Homo sapiens: one gene and its partners. The protein of the gene in region 1 purifies or fractionates together with the protein of each later gene. This does not show direct contact. Each region holds a gene or a part of one and is shown in the gene's direction. Other genes may lie near its edges.

Region 1 (2,513 bases):
TGACCTGGCGCAGTGCCAGCCCAGTGCAGGCAGGGCCAGGTTGAAGGCACAGGGGGTGGGGTCAGGGTGGGATGGGGGGCCCAGGCGGAGGGGGAGGGGTGGGATGGGGGCCCAGGGGGAGAGGTCGGGGTGGGATGGGGGGACCAGGGGGAGGGGTTGGGGTGGGATAGGGGGACCAGGGGCAGGGGTCGGGATGGGATGGAGGAGACCCAGGGAGCTGTAGGAGCCTTGCTTCAGCTGGGAAAGGGGCCTCGGAGGATGTTCTGGATGAAGGGACTCTGAGCAGAGACCTAGAGGACAAGTAGGAAGGAGCAGAAGAAAGAAGGCAGGGGAAGGGGGCCCCAGCCTGAGGGAACTGTATGTGCAGAGGCTGAGAAGGGCCAAATAGGGTCACATGGGAAGGACACGTGGGCTCCTGGGCTGGAGCACAGAACAGGAGGTGAGGATGGGGTGCAGATGCGGGCGGGCCTTGTCAGGCTGTGGAAGGGCTGAGGCTTTGTCCTGTGCGGGGAGCCGTGGCCACTGCATGGGGGATGAAAGGAGGCTTGATGGGAGGCCAGGAGCCCAGGGAGGAGGCCAGGAGGCTGATAGGAGGTGGGGGAGCAGCTGGGACGGGCCTCAGGTCTTCCCTGCAGTGGGAGCAGGGAAGAGCAGAAGCTCTGGGAGACTCCCTGGGTGTTTGGGGCTGCGGTGTCCAAGAGCTGCTGGACCCTTGGGACTGGAACTCAAAAGCAGGCTAGGGATGGATAAAGATTGGGATGGCCCCTGGAGAGGCAGGAACTGCAGCCACAGTGGTGGGGACTGGGACGAGGAAGGGTGAGAAAGCGAGGGTGACCACCTCCCCCACTGCACCCCCCAGGGTGTGCTCCGTGCGCTCCGTGGACGGCTCACCCACGACAGCCTTCACAGTGCTGGAGTGCGAGGGCTCCCGGCGGCTCGGCTCTCGGCCCCGGCGCTACCTGCTCACTGGCCAGGCCAACGGCAGCTTGGCCATGTGGGACCTAACCACCGCCATGGACGGCCTCGGCCAGGCCCCTGGTACTCCCTGCCCCACCCCAATCCCGTCCCAAGCCCCACAGCCTCACCCAGAACCACTCTCCACTGCCAACTGCTTGATCTCTCTCCCAGGCCCTTGCCCTCTGACCCCTTTTCCTTTGACCCCCTCTCTGCTCCCCATCCCTTCCTGCCCTTGTTTTTCAACCCCTGTCTCAGCCTCTGGCCCCCATGCATTGATCTCTGCTTCCTCTCTCCTGTCCTGACCCTCGGTGCTTGCACTGCAATGCAACCCAGGCCCTTGCCCTATGACCCCTGTCTTGCCCCCTGACCCTGCTTCCGTGCCCCCCAGCAGGTGGCCTGACGGAGCAAGAGCTGATGGAACAGCTGGAACACTGTGAGCTGGCCCCGCCGGCTCCTTCAGCTCCCTCATGGGGCTGTCTCCCCAGCCCCTCACCCCGCATCTCCCTCACCAGGTAGCCACAACTCCACTGCCCCTTCTGTGCAATGAGGGGAGAGGGGACAGCATGGTGTTCCCGGGGACAGAGTGGCCCAGCTGCCCCGTGATGACGTGCACTTACTGTCCTTACTTCCTCAGCCTCCACTCAGCCTCCAGCAACACCTCCTTGTCTGGCCACCGTGGGAGCCCAAGCCCCCCGCAGGCTGAGGCCCGGCGCCGTGGTGGGGGCAGCTTTGTGGAACGCTGCCAGGAACTGGTGCGGAGTGGGCCAGACCTCCGACGGCCACCCACACCAGCCCCGTGGCCCTCCAGCGGTCTCGGCACTCCCCTCACACCTCCCAAGATGAAGCTCAATGAAACTTCCTTTTGAACAACGCAGCTGCCATGATGCCTTGGGATGCCCTGGTCCTGGGGGACTCAGGTGCCTCCCTGATTCCTGTGGGAACCCCGGGTTCAGGGCCAGGGCCTCCTTGGAATAAATGGTTATTGTTACTAGGTCCCCACCTTCCCTCTTTTCTGGAAGCCAAAGTCACCCTCCCCAATAAAGTCCTCACTGCCAACATCTTGCTTATTCTTAGCAGGTTTGGGACTCCCCAGGAAAGGGGTGGGGAAGATGTGGGACCCAACCCGATATATGCAAAATCAGGAACATCTACCTCTCTTGTTTAAGCAAAGGGAGGCCAGGCATGGTGGCTCACATCTATAATCCTGGCACTTTGGGAGGCCAGTTTGCTTGTGCTCAGAAGTTTCAGACTAGCCTGGGCAACATAACAAAACCCCATCTCTACAAAAAAATACAAAAATTAAGCAGGCATGGTGGTGCATGCCTGTGGTCCCAGCTTCTTGGGAGGCTGAGGTGGGAGGATCGCTTGAGCCTAGGAGGCCAAGGCTACAGTGAGCCATGATCACACCACTGCACTCCAGCCTGAGTGACAGAGTGAGATCCTGTCTCAAAAACAAAACAAAACAAAAAAGGTGTTGCAGGGGAGGAATGTGTTGGCTTTTACTCTGCCTTCAGGCATGGCTGGATCCGGGGCTTCAAACACTAATTCAGAATATC
Region 2 (2,984 bases), on another chromosome or scaffold:
TGGTTAAGTAAAATAACACATCAGGTGGACTTGGGTTATCAGAGTTCTTCCTTCTAGCTCTGTTCCTTAGGCAACTGCTCTCCTATGCCTCAGTTTTATTATCCTTAAAATGGTCATAACAATTTCTACCTCAGGATGATTCATATAAGGATTAAATATGATAATGTATATTGCCTAGCTCAGTGTTTGTTCCAGAGTAAAAACTCATTAAATGGTATCATTATAGAAAACCTCCCATTGAGAAGTAATACTGGTTTTGCTCTATTTTTAGGAGTATATGCAGGAAAAATCCAAAGAAAGCGGCCAAATGTTGCGACAATTTAAGAAGACAACATTCATTAGGATAAAATGGGGGGAAGGATTATTATTCATGTTATTTTCCCTGCCCAAGACTTTATTTAACCCTGGACTCCGTTTACACAGACAAAGTGACATCAGAAGGCTGAGCACTTATCTGGATCATTTGGTCAGTTTGGTAATTCCTGCTCCACACCCCTATTTTCCTCTTAATAATACGTTTGGGTGAAGACAAATTAGTGTTTAGTAATTGCATCATCTCTGTGCTTACCTATACAAACATAAGTTTATTTTATATGCCCAGATGTCTACAGAGACCCTTTTTGTAAATGTCAAGGACATTTGGATTTACTTTTACAGAATATTGAAAAGATAAGACAAATTATAAATAAGTTCTAAAACATAAATTTAATTCATCTCTGCATAGTGATTTTTGAATTTGATTCAAAGGGAAATTATTGCAGAAGAATGCCTTTCCCTCATTTTATAACTTTAAAAACTTGGATTAACCACTCAATGTCCACTTTCTTTGACTTACAGTATAACCATGTAGCCAATTGTGGCCCACTAAAATCTACAGAAGTTAATGTGGGTCACCATTTTGGTCAGAAGCATACATTCCTGTCAGACAACTAGTTGTCTGACAGAAATGTTAGGCTTCATGTATGTTACCCCAGTACTGTTAGAAACATTTGTACTAGGTTATAAGATCTTTCTGTGACAGGTAACAAATTTGGGGAAGACAGCACAATCTTCTTGAATGTAGCTCTTGGGAATGCATTATTACATCCATTTCTGTAACATAATAATATGTTGCATGCAGTTATATTTTCTATTTAGTCTGTATATTTTGTTCTTCATAGTCTGTTTTTTCTAGCATGCTTGATTTAGGAGAGAATAAAGGGCTATATAATAATAAATCCAGATTTCCGGATAAGAATATTGCCTGGTTAAAATTCTGCATTGCTTAAAGACACCCATGTTTAAGATTTTTCATCACTAACATATCCATTAAAAGTATCAACTGGCCAGGCAGGGTGGCTCACGCCTGTACTCCCAGCATTTTGTGAGGCCAAGGTGGGTGGATCACCTGAGGTCAGGAGTTTGAGACCAGCCTGACCAAACATGGCGAAACCCCATCTGTACTGAAAATACAAAAATTAGGCATGGTGGTGCATGCCTGTAGTTCCAGCTACTTGGGAGGCTGAGACAGGCGAATTGCTTGAACCTGGGAGGCAGAGGTTGCAGTGAGCTGAGACTGTGCCATTGCACTCCAGTCGGGTTAACAGAGCAAGACACTGTCTCAAAAAAAAAAAAAAAAAAAAGTATCAACCAACAAATGTTACCAAGATAACGTGACTTCATGAGGGAGAATGTCACTATTAATTTATCATACCATTTCCAAAAAGGGCTTTGTGCTTTTCACATAAAATTGAGACAGTGTATATTTAATCTAATTTAAATTTTAAAGAGATACTGGTATTTTGAAAATGCAACCTATATATATTCTTAATATCCTTTTAAGAATATGGAGATGAAGATTGTTTTCTCCAATTTTCTGTGCCATTTTAAATTTAACTTTGACATCCAGCTATAGACAGAAATAATAAGCCACCCTGGGTGTAAACTTGATTTTCTTTATTGAGATGTATCATGTATTGAATGAGTGAACCAGAAAATTAGAAGATGGTCAAAAAAAGTCCAAGTTACCAATTTTTTAAAATTTATAGGCAAAGTATCAAATTGTCTTCTTAATATGATAAACTGTGCTTTATCATTCTGAAAACTCAGGATACAGCTTATTCATAGCATTGTGGGTCTCTCCAGTAAGAAAGATGCTAAAAGTTTTGTGCACTTTTTGTGTGTGTAATGCAAATTAGTTAAAACAAATAGTTTTGGAGAAAGTTAAAACTAGCTTTAGAGTAAGGATGAGAAACTTGAGTGTTTTTAATTTAAAGATAAAAGCCTGTGTTTTACACATTCTTTTTTGGTGTTCATAGCTTCTTCTCATACAGGTGCCAGACACTGTTTGTGCTTTTGATGGATTTTTATTTATATACTTTTTTTGCTTATTTTTACTTTGAGTGGAATGTTCATTAATGTAAATTGTATTTATTTTTATACTTTTATTTTCACTAGTTTTGCTTCTAGGCAAAAAGCAAAATAAACTTTTCATCTTAAAGAAAATCTAGTTTGATTGTTTTTATTTACCAGGGGAAGGACTATTAAGAAATAGGCCGGGCATGGTGGCTCATGCCTGTAATTCTAGCACTTTGGGAGGCCAAGGTGGGTGGATCATGAGATCAGGAGTTTGAGATCAGCCTGGCTAACATGGTGAAACCCCGTCTCTACTAAAAATACAAAATTAGCTGGGCGTAGTGGTGCATGCCTGTAGTTCCAGCTACTTGGGAGGCTGAAGCAGGAGAATCGCCTGAGCCTGGGATGGGGAGGCTATAGTGAGCCGAGATTGTGCCACTGCACTGCAGCCTGGGTGACAGAGCAAGACTCCATCTCAAAACAAAACAAAAAAGAAACCGATATTAGCCAGGCATGGTGGTTCACATCTGTAGTCCTAGGTACGCTGGAGGCTGAGGCAGGAGGATCACTTGAACCCAGGAGTTACAGGTGGCAGTGAGCTATAATCGCACCACTGCACTCCAGCCTGAATGAGACTTTGTCTCCAAAAC
Region 3 (2,410 bases), on another chromosome or scaffold:
GTGGGGGCAGAAGGTTCAGAGAGGAAGTAGAGACTGCGCATGTAGACAGCTCTTCTGAGGTCTCGGCTGTTCAGGGTTGTAGAGAAGGGAGGCAGAGTGGGAGGCGCGCGTGTGCTCAGAGTAGGGATGCTGAGCGAGCATAGATGGTGGCTGGTGGCACCCAGGGCCCGGAGTGAGCCAGAGGAGCAGGGTCCAGAGCACAGCAGGCAACCGGCTCAGCTGAGGCAGCTCACCCCAGAGGCGGGAGAAAAGCAGGAGATCTGGAGCTCAGAAGGCTGCAGTGCAGACTGGGAAAGGAGTGAATACCAGGCAGCTTTGGCCCTATCAGGGCTTTGTCTCATGAGGGTGGGTATATTTTCTTAAAATCATAGAGCGTACTAGAGGTTGCGTTTATGTGTTGAAAGGAAGGACAGAGAGAGGAGTAGGGGCAGCTCAAGGGTGGAGTTCAGGGCCGGGGGCGGGGCCACGGGCCTGAGGGGTGAGGGCAGCCACTATTTCTGACTGTTCTATTAGGTGCCACGTACTGGGCTGGGTGCTCTTGGTGCCTTATCTCCCTTCCTCACAGCCATGTGGAAACTGAGGCATCTCAAGAGTCTATGACTGGGCTGAGGTTCTGGTTTCGAGCCCAGGGTTCCTTCCAAGGCACAGGGCCGTCCTCCATGCAAGAGGAGGGGACCCTCTCCCAAGCCAGACACGCAGGAGGCTGGGCAAGAGTTGTGGGAAGTCAGAGCCCGTGTGACTGTGGGCTGGTGCCTCATTCTCCTCAGCCATAGAGTGGGCCTCACAGTACCACTGACCCTGCTGGGTTACTTGAAGATTCAATTTGATGATCCGAGGATCATGCCATCCCAGAGGCTGGCACGTGGAAGGCATGTGTGTGGGGTTGCTAGTTGTTCTGATTATCATTCTTCTTTTCTCAGCTCAGATTGGGACAGGGGCATCTGCTGACAGTGGAGAGCAGTGGTAGGGGAAGGGGCTTGAGGAAGGTGGCACCCAGAGGGGTGGAGAGGAGATGTCTGACTGAGGGCCATCTGAGGTCACGGTGCATCCTGAGGACAGAGCTGAGATTGGATATCAACGATGTGGGCTCAGCAGCCCTGGAGTAGGAGCTGGGAAGGTCAGTGCCTTGGTGGCGGCAGGGCCAGGGCACTGAGAGTATTGGCAGGGCACAGCAGGGGAAAGGGAAGAGAAGCAGAGGGTGGGACTCTCCCTCTGTGCTGGAAGAGGGCTAACACCAGCCCGGACTCTCCACTCTGGCTAGGCCAAGGGGGCCCTCTGTCCTCTGTGTTGCCCTAGGGCTCGGTGACCTCTGTCATAGCACTGACCACATGGTATCCTGCCTGTGCCTTCCTCTAGCTGTCCCCGCCCTACTCCGGACCGCCCCAAAGACTCCATGGGATGGACCTGAGTCAGCCGAATCCCAGCCCCTTCCCTTGGGCCTGCTGTGGTGCTGGACATCAGTGACAGACGGAAGCAGGAGACCATCAAGGTCAGTGCGATTTAGGCCACCTGAGAGACACGGGGGGAAGGTCAGGCCACTGCCCATGAGCTTGGAGGGCTGGCGTGTGATGCGCTTCTGTGCTTCCGCAGGCTACGGGAGGCCCGGGGCGCTTGCGAAGATGAAGTTTGGCTGCCTCTCCTTCCGGCAGCCTTATGCTGGCTTTGTCTTAAATGGAATCAAGACTGTGGAGACGCGCTGGCGTCCCCTGCTGAGCAGCCAGCGGAACTGTACCATCGCCGTCCACATTGCTCACAGGGACTGGGAAGGCGATGCCTGGCGGGAGCTGCTGGTGGAGAGACTCGGGATGACTCCTGCTCAGATTCAGGCCTTGCTCAGGAAAGGGGAAAAGTTTGGTCGAGGAGTGATAGCGGGTAAGTGACAATGTACCAAATGCGCAGACAACGCCTAGGGCTGCTGCCCAAGATCTTGCTTGGGAATTTGGGGGCTTCTCTTGTCATCTGAACTGATTGGCGTGTATAACACAGTTTCCTTTGGCAACACACCTTCAAAGGGGCGGCAAGGACCTTGGGCTGGGGGTTGGTATGGCTGGCTTCCACGAGTTCTGGTAAATCATTTCTCCACTCTGGGCCTCAGTTCCTGTTTCTGATCTCAGTGAGAAGCCTGGTCAGGGCCATGTGCACATGGTGTTTGTGGTGTTTGGCTGTGTGTATTTGCACATACATGTGTGAGTGCACATGTGTGGCAGAGACCATGAAAAGCAGCCCAGCCCGCCGAATGGGTCAGGTGGCCTCTAGAGTTGGGCTGCCCGCCTGGCTTCATGAACCTGCCCCAGCCCCACCACTCACAGCACCCTGGGAAAGTCCCCTAACCTCTAGGTGACTGAGGCCCGACATCAGCATCTGTCCCCTGGTGACCTGCTCAGGCATCACCTGTAGCTTCCCAGGCAGT
Region 4 (3,500 bases), on another chromosome or scaffold:
CTGTGGCCAAGAGGGCAGCGGGGGCAGCTGGACTGGGGTTTTTGCCGACGCTCTAATTTGGCGGCTGTCGCCACCCCTCCCCCCCATGGAGACCCTGACGTGGCCTGAGCCAGACTCCAGGGGCCATGTGCCCTGCTGGGGAGCAGGGGCTCAGCATCAGGTCTGGTGCACTGACTGGGAGAGGGGGGTCTCCAGCCCTGGACAGGCTCTGAGTGGGGTGGGGTCCCCCAGCTGCTGTGCCCAGCCCTGCCCCCAGGACCTGGCCTTGGCCCTGCGCTGGCCGGGGCCAGGGAGGGAGTGGGCCCAGCTCCCAAGTCTGTGTGACCACCTCGGCTGGGGCACTGACAGCCCGGGGTGCGGAGGGCCCAGCCCGTGACACCCGCCGTCAGCCGCGCCCTCTGCCTCCAGCCCGTGGACCGGGAGCCCGTGGACCGGGAGCCGGTGGTGTGCCACCCCGACCTGGAGGAGCGGCTGCAGGCCTGGCCAGCGGAGCTGCCTGATGAGTTCTTTGAGCTGACGGTGGACGACGTGAGAAGACGCTTGGCCCAGCTCAAGAGTGAGCGGTGGGTGCCCCCTCAGTGCCTCCCGGCATCTTCGCGCCAGGGTTTGCCCCATCGGGTGCTTGTGCTGCCCGCTGTCCCCAGTGCCAGCACTGGCTCCCGGCCCAGGTCCCTGACAGGCTGCCCTTAACAGGACCTCAGAGGGTTGGGGCCCAGGGAGGGGCGTCCAGACCTTCCTGCCTTGTGTGGGGAGAGCAGCCCACTCCCACCCTGGAGGGTGCAGGTGAGGAGCCCGGGGCCTGTTGCCAGGGCCCCCATTCTGACCAGAAGCCCTGTTCCTTCCCCTCCTCACCACAGGAAGCGCCTGGAAGAAGCCCCCTTGGTGACCAAGGCCTTCAGGGAGGCGCAGATAAAGGAGAAGCTGGAGCGCTACCCAAAGGTCTGCAGACAGGATGTGGGGGCGACTGAGGCACAGCTCTGAGGGGGCCCCCCGTGAGGTCTGTGGACGGGATGGGGCGACTGAGGCACAGCTCTGAGCGGGCCCCCTGTGAGGTCTGTGGACAGGACGTGGTGGCGACTGAGGCACAGCTCTGAGCGGGCCCCCTGTGAGGTCTGTGGATGGGACGTGGGGGCGACTGAGGTACAGCTCTGAGGGGGCCCCCTGTGAGGTCTGTGGATGGGACGTGGGGGCGACTGAGGCACAGCTCTGAGCAGGGCCCCCCCGTGGTGGCGCGCATGCCCTTAGTGGCCAGTTGATCCTCCCCTGCTCATGATTTAGAATGAAACCTTTTTTTTTTTTTGAGACGGAGTCTCTCTCTGTCGCCCAGGCTGGAGTCAGTGGTGCCATCTCAGCTCACTGCAAGCTCCGCCTCCCGGGTTCAAGTGGTTCTCCTGCCTCAGCCTCCCAAGTAGCTGGGATTTCAGGTACCCGCTACCACTAGCTCGGCTAATTTTTGTTGTTTTTTTTTTTTTTACTAGAGATGGAGTTTTACCATGTTGGCCCGGCTGGTCTCGAACTCCTGACCTCAGGTGATCTGCCCGCCTCGGCCTCCCAAAGTTCTGGGATTACAGGCTTGAGCCACCACACCTGGCTGAATGAAACTTTAAACAGCACATTTGAGCCGGGCGTGGTGGCTCACGCCTGTAATCCCAGCACTTTGGGAGGCCAAGGTGGGCGGATCATGAGGTCAGGAGATCGAGACCATCCTGGCTGACACGGTGAAACCCCATCTCTACTAAAAATACAAAAAATTAGTCAGGAGAGGTGGCGCACGCCTGTAGTCCCAGCTGCTCGGGAGGCTGAGGCAGGAGAAAGGCGTGAACCCGGGAGGTGGAGCTTACAGTGAGCCGAGATCATGCCACTGCACTCCAGCCTGGGCGACAGAGTGAGACTCCATCTCAAAAAAAAAAAAAAAAAAAAAAAACCAGCACATTTGAACCCAGGTCAGTGTGGTTTTAGAACGCAGGCCGCTGTGCACACACACGGCACTTGGCTGTCTCCATGCCCAGCCTGCCACGGGGGAGTCAAAGCCCAGGCCCTGATTGGGGGTGGCTGCTTCTGCCTGCCTCAGCCCTGGTGTCCATGGCCCAGCATGGGCCGAGTGGGGAGGCCACGCCCTGGTCCCTGGTGCAGCTCCGGCCGTCCCTCCAACCCTTCCACTTGTCTGGCCTAGGTGGCTCTGAGGGTCCTGTTCCCCGACCGCTACGTCCTACAGGGCTTCTTCCGCCCCAGCGAGACAGGTGGGCAGCGCTGTGGGGTGTCCGGGGATGGGGGGCAGGGGCCCATGGGGCCTCTCCCGGCTCCTTCCTTCCAGGCCACAGGACTGCAGCCACCTGGCCTGCGGGCTCCAGGGCACTGGGTGGGTGCGGGTGCTGATGTCCCCTTGGGGGTGCAGAGGCATCCCAGTTCGCAGAGTGTCAGGCAGGCTGGGCGCTTGCTCCAGGTGCCCGGCCCCAGCTCAGGGAGCCCGTGGTCCTGAGTGCTCACGTCGCCCACCTACTGGGCATGGGTGGGGCAGAGGGGCACCCAGAGGAAGGCACCCTACCCCGGGAGGAGGGCAGTGGTGCTGTGACATTCAGGGGCTTGTGACCTGTACCCAGACGGCCGGGCGGCAGCAGCCCAAGGTCACAGGGGCCTCCCCCAGGGAAAGGGAAGCGCTTAGGCTGGGGCGGGGGTGGGGCTGGGGGGCAGCGGGTGGCAGTGGGAGTGCTCTCCAGCAGGGCGGGGGTCCCAAGTGTGGCCCGCACGGTGGCCCAGCCACGCCGAGCACCTGGAGTGCTGTGGGAGGAACAGGGCTGAATTCCCACCCCTCGGGGAAAGGCCCAGGAGGGTGGGAGCAGTGGCCCAGGTGCTGGGGCAGCCCGGGGCTGGCGTGGTGGAAGAGCTGTCTGTATGTTCTTTTTCTCCTCTGCAGTGGGGGACTTGCGAGACTTCGTGAGGAGCCACCTGGGGAACCCCGAGCTGTCATTTTACCTGTGTACGTTTTTTCTCCTGAGCCCACTCCTGCCTCCAGTGCTCGGGGCCTTGGTGCTGTGGGCACACCGCCCGTCCCAGCTGGGGCTCGTGGCAGCTTCTCCACAGGAGCAGCATCTGTGGCCTCCCGCCCAGGTGCCTCCTGCAGCCCATGGTGTCTGTGTGGAGACCTAGGAGGGCCCTTCTCCCCGAGCCAGGCGGTGGGAGCCAGGCTTCCTGCCTTCTCTCTCAGCGCCCTGCTCCCCTCTGGAGCCCTGCTGCACCCCAGCCTGGTCCCCACCCCTGGGGCTCAGGCCACTCCTGCCCGAGGGCTGTGGGAAGGGTGGGTGGACAGGGAGTGGCTGGCCTCCCTTGGAGGGTGTCTAGGTGGCAAAGGGTTAGGCTGCCCACTGCAAGGGGAGCCGGGCTGCACGGGTGGTGTCCCCTGCAGGTGGGCCTGCCCCCCACCGGCCCTTCCGAGCCCTCAGCTGGAGTTTCTGCAGCAGGAGTGTGGGCACAGGGCGTGCTCGTGAGGGGCTCTTCTGCCC
Region 5 (3,618 bases), on another chromosome or scaffold:
CACTGGGCACTTTAAGAGGGAGAGAAAGGGAAGCCCAGGGCAATGTGAAATTGGCCCTCAGCCAGGCAGAAAGCTCTGGCACCAACCCTACCAAGTTCTCCCCATGTGGGCATCTAGTGATGAGAGGCAGTGTGGGATGAGGAGGGAGCCCTGAAACAGGAGGCTGGCATCTGGTCCAGTCTCAAGTGAGTTCTTGGCCTGGGCCTGTTGCTTTTGAGCCCAGCGGTTCACCTGGACAGGGGAAGGTCAGACTACCAGTCTGGGCAGTCCTTACCCTGACATCCCATCCCACTATCATTTTGCAGGGCTTTCCCCTCTCCTTCCTTTACGTATACTTGTGGTTAACATTGTTGAGTGCCTGCTGTGTGCCAGGCATTGTGCTAAGTATCTCTTTCGATCCACACAACAACCCTATGAAGATATTCCCCCCCCCCTCCCCGTTTTAGAGATGAAAAAACAAAAGCTCAGAGGCCTTGAGGGATATGCGCAAGGAATCGCAGCTTGTTAAGTGCTGGGGTTTGAACCCCTTTGATGTGAGTTCAGAGCCTTTGTTCCCCATCACCACTCATGGGTTCATCTGGGCCGCCCCGAGCAGCTCTAGGTGTTTGGAGAAAGAAGTGAAAGGAGGGAGAGAGTATTTGTGCTGCAGGGAGCGAAGCATGATTTTTTGGCAGGTGTCTATCCTGGGTGCTCCCCGTGCCTCACAGCAGAGTCAGCAGGTCCCCGCCAGCCTGAGCATGAGAGGAAGAGGTCAGCCTCCTTGGGCCAGGCTCTGAGGAGGTGTGGAGTAGAGGCCCCGTGGTTGAGGAGCCATAGGGAAGTGCTCTAGCCACGCCCATTGTGAAGGCCACATTTGAGGGTGTGGCTTTCTCCTAGAGATCTGAGCACAGTAACAGCGCTCAGTCACAGAGAGGCAGGAGAGAGGTTCTGTTCCTCCTGGGTTTTGGTGCCCCCATGGCTGTAAGATTGGCCTATTATACTCTTTGGAGTACTGCATTTCTTCTTACTCTCAAAGCATCCTTGTTAAGAAGTGGGTATGACCACCATGTTTTTTAGGTTAGAAAAACAAGGCCCACAGAGGCCAAGAGCGCTACCCACATTGAAAGAATGAAGGGCAGGGCCAGACTGCACCTTTATTAGAGTCTTTGCCCTGTCGGGATGGGGACCCAATTTAGGGGCCAGCATGTGTCTAGCAGTGGAATAGGGGTGCAGGGAGGGTGGGGCAAGAGCCCCATGTGTCCTGGAAGCTGAGGGTCCCCCAGCAGCGGCCGCATTGCCAGAGCCCCCTGCTCTGCTGCTCTGCCTGTCCGCCTATCTGCCATTCCATCATGTGTGTGCAGACGTGCCTGCTCCCTGGATGCCAGCCTCTCACTGTCTCCTGTGCTTTTTGCCAGCCCAGGCAGTGACTGACCCGTGACCCAGCATGCAAAGAAGCCTGGAGCCAGGGGCCCAGTGGAACCAGCTTCCTCCAAGGAGATGACCTTTCTGCCCCCAAGGAAACCCCTTCCAGCTGAGCAGGGAATCCGGCCGGAGGAAGGAGCAGCTTACCGACTGCGGGTGTTCACCACAGGCCAGGCCCTAATATGCACCCACTAGTTTAGCTCAGACTCCTCTCTACATATGAATGGCAAAGGCACTTTTGATATACACTGTAAAATACACTGTATTTTAGAATCGGAATCTATTTTCTAATGTTCCCCTCAAGGGCTGAGTGGCAGGAAGGTTGAGGATGCAGGACTTTGCAGCTGCACGTACAGATTCAGGTACTTCTGGGTGACAGGTGTTGTGGGGGCAGGAAGGGCGGGGCAAGCCGAGGCTAGTCCAACTTCCAATGACCTCAGGAGAAAGTGAGATTTAAAGAGGTGTTCCCAGTAGACTCCAGCAAGAGGCTGGTTGGCGTGCTGTCTGGGAGAAGAGGGGCCCTTGGCTGCAGAGATCAGCTGTCCCTGACCTGATGACCAGCTCTGTGTGAAACTCCACGAGGATCACACGTGGAGCCCAAGTCTGTGCCTTGCCCCTTGGGTTTGGCTTAGGGGCAACAGTGTGTTCAAGAGGACTGGGGCCCACAACCTGCCCCCAGGCTTCCTCCAGCAAAAGGCTCTTGTCAGAAAGAAAAAAGCAGTTTGCTATCTTTTTTTTTTTTTGAGATGGAGTTTCACTCTTGTTGCCCAGGCTGGAGTGCAATGGCACGATCTCGGTTCACTGCAACCTCTGCCTCCTGGGTTCAAGTGATTCTCCTGCCTCAGCCTCCCAAGTAGCTAGGATTACAGGCATGTGCCACCACGCCCGGCTAATTTTGTATTTTTAGTAGAGACGGGGGTTTCTTCATGTTGGTGAGGTTGGTCTCGAACTCCTGACCTCAGGTGATTCATCCGCTTCAGCATCCCAAAGTGTTGGGATTACAGCCGTGAGCCACCACGCCCAGCCTGCTTTCATTTTTAACAGTACACATTGAAATACAGAAAAGGTGAGAGGAAGCAACTTTCATTGTATCGTAGCAATAAACTCCACACTGGGTGACATCTACCTAGAAATCCCTTCCCTCTAACCAGGCCATGATGGGAACCTTTGCTGCCTGCCCTTGGAGAACCCCGGATTGGCTTCCCTGGGACTCAGGTCTGGTGGCAGGAGGGCAGCAGTGTGCCCCCACCATCCCTCATGGCCTGCCGCCAGCAGGGCCATAATGGCAGGACTTTGATTTGACTTCCAGCCCCACATGAGGAGGGGGGCTACCAAGCCAGGTGCAGTGTTTGTGGCCCTTTATTTAAGTTGTTTTCTTATATTATTCTGCATATAAACAATGACGTTTAAATGGAAAAAACAACAACAACGAAAACCTCCATTGGGTGGAGCCACACTTTAAATGAAAATTTCTCTTTGACTATGCTCAGAAAAAAAAATAGAATTTTGAATATATCTAGCAGTTGTTGTCTATTTTTAACTAACTCCATATGCTGCCAGTATCGACTTCATGACATTTGCCAAAATAAAATTTTATTTTTGCCTTTATAAGATTTTCTTGGAAAAAATGAAATGAATATTTTGCAAGAAAAAGTTAATTTAAAAATGTAATGGTTTGCAAAAAAAATGTGATGTACAGATTAAAATATTAACCTGATACGTTTCCTGTTTCTTGCTGGCTATAGTCTCTGGTGAGTGGCCTGTGTACGTTTGTTTCCATTTCTTTGGAAAATCCCCACTGTCAGCTCTCGGCCCTGCTTCTATTTACCTATGAAAAGTTTCTTCTGGTGACGATTCCTTGACATTTGATTGACTGTAGAGGCCTGGATTGAGGAGGCCTGTGCTTCTGGGCCCCTGGCTAGGCTTCCACAGTTGCTCAAGGCAACCCCCTACCCCATCCCAGTCAAAGAGCCACCAGGCTGTGGACTCCCTTGTGGGGCTGGTTTGTCAGACAGACTGCAGTCCAATTCAAGACAGCGCAGGGAACGCTGTGGGCCCCCTTCCAACCCACATGCTGCCGGCTCGCTCCTGGGAGGCAGCTTAGTGACGGACCATTGCAAACTGGATTTGTATTTAATTCATTTTGACTTGTGATGTATGCTCACAACAGAAGGCAAGAAGCCAGTTCCATTGAGGGGTGTGTATATTTCTGAGCTG
Region 6 (2,804 bases), on another chromosome or scaffold:
TATAAATGATTTTGATTTGGAGGCCTAATTTGTAGATTGTGAAAGCAGCTTTTAGTTTAACTTATTCACAGACCCCTTATAATTACCATGTTTTTTTTTTTCTTCCTAAATCTCTTGGTTCAGCTTGTGAATCTTACGTGCCCGTAAAGTTGGGATGTTGAATTGGCTCTTCTTTGTTCTGGCAGTGAGTCAAGTGTCCAGCATTTTTTCATAAGTGTTTTTTAAAATTGTTCTCCAGCATTTTATGGCTCCTCCCTCCCATGTCCTCAGACCCAGCAAAAGCGTAGAGGCAGAATTAGAGGCCTCTCCAGGCCAGCTCCTCTGCCCACATGTCATACAAGGTGTGAATTTGAGCACAGTCCAGAAATGGAGACATCCCACCCCCAGTTGAATAATGGCCCATTCATGCCAACCTTGCCAACACGGAGAGGGCAGAGATGCACTAGAAGACCTTCATCCTCCCCTTCCTCTGCCCCAAGTCACTACAGTTGGTTCTATTGAAGCCAGTCTTTAAGAAACCTGGGTTAAAGACACCAGCACTTCTGCTTGCTGGGCTGGCTGGACCTGTGAAGCCATGGGCAGGTAGTGCCCTCTTGAGAGTCATTTTATTTGGCCACCTTCAGGTGAGACTATCCATAGACACATGCTAGGATAGGCCCCGCTGGGAGGGCAGTTACAGGAGAGAGTAGGTGGTGGTGACGTGAGGGCTGTGAAGGATCCAGAGACAAGACTTAGATGTTTCGTTCATTCACTCACTCATTCAGTTACTCCTAAGACTTTTCAGTTTCATAAGGAAGAGTGTTGCCTGAGGCCCTAGGGAATATTGGGGAATAGAAGGGATTGAGGAAACATTAATAATAGTTATTCAAAAGACCCAAATGCTTATACTTCTCTCTCCCTTCTTCTCTCTCTGACACACACACACACACACACACACACACACACACACACGTGCACATTCCTCCCTTACATGCTCATTTGTGCCTTAAATGTGCCTTATAGGTAAATCCAGGATGACTGAGGAATCCCTCGTCACTGGGAGATTTTGTATATATTCTTTTATTATTAGATTGAGTTGGGTGTGGGGAAAAATTTTTTTCTGAAGGCTCAAAAGTGGTTTCCTAAAAGTGAGCCACTATCAGATTTGCACATCAGGAGAAAAGAAATAGGGTTACGTCCATTAGGAAAATCCCAGTTTGCAGGAGTGCAATCACATCAAAAAAACAACCAGCCAGGATTAAAGGTATTATAAATCCTCATAGCGGAACATTTCTCAGGGCAAAGGAACCTGGCTCATTTGAAGATTAATGTTCCATGCCTTTGTGGTCAAAGGGTCAGCACTTAACACAGGAAAAAACTAGGTGTTGTTTTGTTTTGTTATTTTGGACAACATAAAATTCAGGAATGTTTTATTTAGCCTTGGTTTCTAGAAGGAAGGGAAATAATATTTCTTGAGCATTTACTAGGGTGTTGCGTGCTGTGCTAAGTAAATTTTAAGTCTTTCAGTTTTATAGATACGGAAAACAAGGGTGACTCTTTACCACAGGATGAATAAAGAACTAAGTAATATGGGAAATGCAGCAATTTCTGGACTAGCTGAGCCGATTCCTTCCTGTGAGCACACTGTAAGCTTTCAAGTTCTCTGGGCAGGAATTACAGCACCTGTCCCCTGCAATGGCCCTGCTGTGTGATGCTCATCGCTTCCCTTCGTGCTGGAGCAGTCCCCCAGGTGTCCATCTCCTATCTTTTTGTTCCAATCTTCTGTGAGTTCCAGCTAGCAGGCTTTACATCTGGGGAAAGGAAAACCAGGGGTTTTAGCTCTGTTCTCTGCTCCCATCCTTCGCTCACCAGCTGAGTGAGAACATGAACTTTTTGCACCATGTACCCATGGCTTACACTACTTAGAAAATCACCTTTTCAGATAAAACAGTTTATGAGTTCATAGAGAACACCAGCACTCTTTGACAAAACTGTGAGTGACCCTTTTTAAACAATGCTGAGCAGGCCCTGAGCTATAATCAACGGTGAGCTTTAATGTCTATGCTGACAGTTAGGTTTTGCTCTCTTTTGTAACAGGTTACGTAGACCAGCAGTGTTTAAATCTAAATACGTTGTGAGTCTGTTATCTGTCCTATCGCGTTTTTTAAATGACTTTTTATTCTTTATCATAGCTAAGTAAATACCAAAAAAAAAAAAAAGCTTTGTAGGACACTTGTACTTAGTTTGGGAAAAAAAAATAAATTGAAATTGTTATGCTTTTGTATTTCCATTTCTTGCAAATAAATATTTTTTCTTAAATAGTAAGATGTTGCCCAGTCTTTATAATCTTGGTACTAATTTGAAAAGCATGTTGTTTTTTTATGAACATGGGTTTGTGTATGTGTGCCGAACCGTTCTTTCCTGGATATCTACTTGGCCTGAAAGAAGAGCCTCAAACCAGCAATTGGTATGTTATATAGGACTGAATCCAAGCCTTAGTTGGAGGAATATTGAGAATGTAATTGTTTTTTCAGGCAGCCACGGGAAGAAAAACAGTATCCTCTAGAGACTTATGCAGCATGACTGTTATTTTTATTGTCTCCTCTAACTATTCCCTAACTAGATTTCAACTGTCTGTGGATTTGATTTTGCTTTCCCCATCTCTGGTTGCTTGAGAAAGATCCTTTGGACTTGAGCCAGAAAGGAATGATCCTTCTTCCTACGAACAGTTGCAGAGGATGTCTAACAGATTCATGCTCCAGAAATTCTGATGAAATGGTTGATAAAGGTCAGTGCACTCAAGCAGAGTAATCTTCGTTCCATTA
Region 7 (3,054 bases), on another chromosome or scaffold:
AAGACATTCCAGACTGTGAGGTACCAAGGCCTAGGGAAACAGGGGCTCCAGGCAGGGAGGGGCAGGAGGCTGGGAGCCCAGGCCAGAGACTGCTACCCCTTTAGTGAGGCTTCCCAAGCCTGGCCCCGCTGTGGGCACTGGGGCTGCTGAGGACGACAGGGTGCATGCTAGTGGAGAGCGCACAGCTGTCTGGGTGCTGTGGAAAGAGCTCTGGACCAGAAGTCAGAGATCAAGGTCTGCATACCAGCTCTGCCTTCCCTCCCGTCACCACCCAGCTGGGCAGACAGGCCCTGGACGAAGGGACCTTGTTCCACTACTGTCCTTCACTTTTGAGCATTTTCTCCTTCCCGCTTGGCTCTAGGATCTTCTCAGAACTCAACAGCACAGAAATGCATCTGATCATTGTCCGGGGAATGAACCTCCCAGCCCCTCCAGGTAACCCTAGGGCCGCCCCTACTCCAGGAGGCTCTTGCCCGGACACTCCAAGTGCTAGGCTCCTGGCCACTCCCTCTGACTTGACTCCCTTTTCTCCTTCCCAGGGGTGACTCCCGATGACCTGGATGCTTTTGTGCGGTTTGAGTTTCACTACCCTAACTCGGTGAGGTTCAGGTAGAAGTAGGATCCTCTGAAACCCGCCTTGCATTCCAGGACCCTGTGCTCACTTTCTTCCCATCCCTGGGAGGTGTGGCTGCAGTGCCTGCCCTGTGTGCCTCTTTGTTTATACGCTGTCCTGACTTCTCCCTCCTCACTGCTTAGGACCAGGCTCAAAAAAGCAAAACAGCTGTGGTGAAGAACACAAACTCTCCAGGTGAGGGCCACACGTGGGCCTCTTTCTCCTCCCTCAGAGTGTGTGGGCAGCACTGGTGTTTCCAGAGTGGGTTCCCATCTATGCCCTTACTTGATCCACCCCACTTGGGAGATAAAGGTGCTGTTAACATGCTTCTTCTGTAGTTGGAGAAACACGCAGAGAGGTACAGGGACTTGCCTGGGGCCTCATGGCAAGGAAGTGGTAGAAATGGGATATGAACACAGGAATTCTGTATCCCAATTCCAAGTCTTTCCTACTTTGTTACAATCTATGACTAAAAAGAGTACAAAAACTCACTTCCAAGGCCAGGACCGCGATGCTCTACCACCCTTTGGAGGCAGTACCCCAAAATGCAGGTGGAGAGATTGGGGGAAGGCAGCCAGCCCTGGGCCTCCATTTCCACTTCCTCAGGAAATCCCGAGAGCCAAGCCCCTCCTTGCTTTCTCCCCCTTTGCCAGAATTTGATCAACTCTTCAAACTAAACATCAACCGAAACCACCGGGGCTTCAAGAGGGTGATCCAGAGCAAAGGCATCAAGTTTGAGATCTTCCACAAAGGGTGAGGCTCCTATCGGTCATGCTGCCACACGGGCCGGGAGGAGGGAAGAGCGTTTGTCACTGCTGCCCCTGCATGGGCTCAGCCAGCACATTCCTGCCTTCCCTGCCCAGTCCAATCCTCTGCTGCCTCTTGACTCCCCAGGTCCTTCTTCAGAAGCGACAAGCTGGTTGGCACAGCACACCTGAAACTGGAGCGGCTGGAGAATGAGTGTGAGATCAGAGAAATTGTGGAGGTAGGGGCTGGGGTGTGGGCAAGCCAAAGGGGTTGGTACGACAAGAGCCAATACGCACTGAATGCCACACCTTGTTGTAGGTTTTCGTGCTCATTACTTAATTTGAAATTCTCCACAAGTGTGCTTAGAGTAGGTGGAATCCTCATTTCACAGATGGAGAGGTTCAGAAGGTCTGAGAAATCTCACAGAGGGACCCAGGAGAAGGCAGCCTCCTTGTTTCCATGAACTCAATGGATTCCACAGGCAAGGACTATACGACCTTGCCTCTGACAAATGAGGAAACTCAGGTCCGAGAGGAAAGGGGGTTCTGTAAGCTCATATGGTGTGTCCTTGGCAGAGCTACGACCAGCTCCTTACTGATAACCTATGTAGGCTGGGGCTCTTCCCACTGTAGCACACCTGGCCCTACTGCCTGCCTGGGGAAGTTGTTCTTATGCGGGCCCTGGTCTCTATTGGAGCCACTGAGGGTGGTTGGACTTCTTGGGCCTATTGTACTGCTTTGTGCCCTAATTGACTGCCTCATCTTCTGCCCAAAAGAGGGAGTAGCGTGGTGAATGGGAAGGAACCCTGGGTTTGGGGTTCCAGTGCTGACTCTGCCACATAGAGTCATCTGCTTCTCTCTCTTGGCCATCTGTGAAGTGAGGGTTTGGGTCAGTGGAAGGCTGCTTCTTCAAGCCAATGTTTCTTCCAGAAGTTGCCGTGGGGATTGAGGAGAAAATGAACAGAGCTCTAGGATGCTTGTCTGGATTTATTTATTACTTTTTTAATAAGACTCACCTAAAACCACCACCACCTCCTCCTCCAAATACTGGGAGGGTAGGGTTTTCATGAATGGAGATTCCTGTGTTCATGCCACAGGACATCTTAGCTCCTCTCACTTCTTTCCTGGGAATGTAGGGACCTGCCTGCTCCCCATCTCTGTCCCCTTAGTTACCATTTCCCTCTCTGTGGTCCTCACAGGTCCTGGATGGAAGGAAGCCCACCGGGGGGAAGCTGGAGGTGAAGGTGAGGCTGCGGGAGCCTCTGAGTGGCCAGGATGTGCAGATGGTCACTGAGAACTGGCTGGTTCTGGAGCCCAGGGGCTTGTGAGGTGGGCAGCTCTCTGGGCCTTCAGAACCTTTGCCCCCTCCTTTTACTCAACTAACTACTCAACTCATATCTGGAGAGAAAACCTAGGAGTTTCTCATCTATGAGAAAGACCTACCATGCTGGGTAGGGCTTATGGGCTGAGTTTCTGATGTTCCTCAGTAGAACTGGGAAGAGAAGGTAACCTTCCAAGGTTTAACTATCTATCTATCTATCTATCTTCAGGAAACCCTTTCTAAAATCTTTGTGTTTTCACTGCAGTTTAGACTGACTTCTTGTGCTTTGCACCCCTGTGTAGCCGATGGCCAGCACCAGGAGAGGAGTCAGGCCGCGACTGTGCAGGAGATGACTTTCCCAGCTTTGCTGGCTT

Evidence for each region.
Region 2: the proteins of SHKBP1 (region 1) and CCP110 purify together in Homo sapiens (co-immunoprecipitation; one large-scale study listed by IntAct). This does not show direct contact.
Region 3: the proteins of SHKBP1 (region 1) and EOLA1 purify together in Homo sapiens (co-immunoprecipitation; one large-scale study listed by IntAct). This does not show direct contact.
Region 4: the proteins of SHKBP1 (region 1) and ASPSCR1 purify together in Homo sapiens (co-immunoprecipitation; 3 studies listed by BioGRID and IntAct, with this or other methods). This does not show direct contact.
Region 5: the proteins of SHKBP1 (region 1) and PLEKHA7 purify together in Homo sapiens (co-immunoprecipitation; one large-scale study listed by IntAct). This does not show direct contact.
Region 6: the proteins of SHKBP1 (region 1) and CREB3L2 purify together in Homo sapiens (co-immunoprecipitation; one large-scale study listed by IntAct). This does not show direct contact.
Region 7: the proteins of SHKBP1 (region 1) and CC2D1B purify together in Homo sapiens (co-immunoprecipitation; one large-scale study listed by IntAct). This does not show direct contact.

The regions. Positions count from the first base shown.
Region 1 is NC_000019.10:40,589,385-40,591,897, forward strand, and holds the end of SHKBP1 (SH3KBP1-binding protein 1), read left to right. Parts: intron 1-859; coding exon 860-1,038; intron 1,039-1,345; coding exon 1,346-1,469; intron 1,470-1,591; coding exon 1,592-1,823; 3' UTR 1,824-2,013; downstream 2,014-2,513.
Region 2 is NC_000016.10:19,550,925-19,553,908, forward strand, and holds the end of CCP110 (centriolar coiled-coil protein of 110 kDa), read left to right. Parts: intron 1-271; coding exon 272-347; 3' UTR 348-2,484; downstream 2,485-2,984.
Region 3 is NC_000023.11:149,544,012-149,546,421, forward strand, and holds part of EOLA1 (protein EOLA1), read left to right. Parts: exon of another isoform or gene 1-1,080; coding exon of another isoform or gene 1,081-1,117; intron 1,118-1,356; coding exon of another isoform or gene 1,357-1,489; intron 1,490-1,590; coding exon of another isoform or gene 1,591-1,619; coding exon 1,620-1,872; intron 1,873-2,410. UniProt on the Homo sapiens protein: May play a role in cell protection during the inflammatory response. In epithelial cells, negatively regulates IL6 production and apoptosis through the regulation of MT2A expression.
Region 4 is NC_000017.11:82,008,629-82,012,128, forward strand, and holds part of ASPSCR1 (tether containing UBX domain for GLUT4), read left to right. Parts: intron 1-408; coding exon 409-563; intron 564-857; coding exon 858-939; intron 940-2,173; coding exon 2,174-2,240; intron 2,241-2,914; coding exon 2,915-2,977; intron 2,978-3,500. UniProt on the Homo sapiens protein: Tethering protein that sequesters GLUT4-containing vesicles in the cytoplasm in the absence of insulin. Modulates the amount of GLUT4 that is available at the cell surface. Enhances VCP methylation catalyzed by VCPKMT.
Region 5 is NC_000011.10:16,776,797-16,780,414, reverse strand, and holds the end of PLEKHA7 (pleckstrin homology domain-containing family A member 7), read left to right. Parts: intron 1-1,394; coding exon 1,395-1,417; 3' UTR 1,418-3,118; downstream 3,119-3,618. UniProt on the Homo sapiens protein: Required for zonula adherens biogenesis and maintenance. Acts via its interaction with CAMSAP3, which anchors microtubules at their minus-ends to zonula adherens, leading to the recruitment of KIFC3 kinesin to the junctional site.
Region 6 is NC_000007.14:137,874,479-137,877,282, reverse strand, and holds the end of CREB3L2 (cyclic AMP-responsive element-binding protein 3-like protein 2), read left to right. Parts: 3' UTR 1-2,304; downstream 2,305-2,804. UniProt on the Homo sapiens protein: Transcription factor involved in unfolded protein response (UPR).
Region 7 is NC_000001.11:52,353,152-52,356,205, reverse strand, and holds part of CC2D1B (coiled-coil and C2 domain-containing protein 1B), read left to right. Parts: coding exon 1-20; intron 21-361; coding exon 362-435; intron 436-539; coding exon 540-598; intron 599-756; coding exon 757-808; intron 809-1,266; coding exon 1,267-1,366; intron 1,367-1,507; coding exon 1,508-1,598; intron 1,599-2,558; coding exon 2,559-2,687; 3' UTR 2,688-2,688; exon of another isoform or gene 2,689-2,982; 3' UTR 2,983-3,054. UniProt on the Homo sapiens protein: Transcription factor that binds specifically to the DRE (dual repressor element) and represses HTR1A gene transcription in neuronal cells.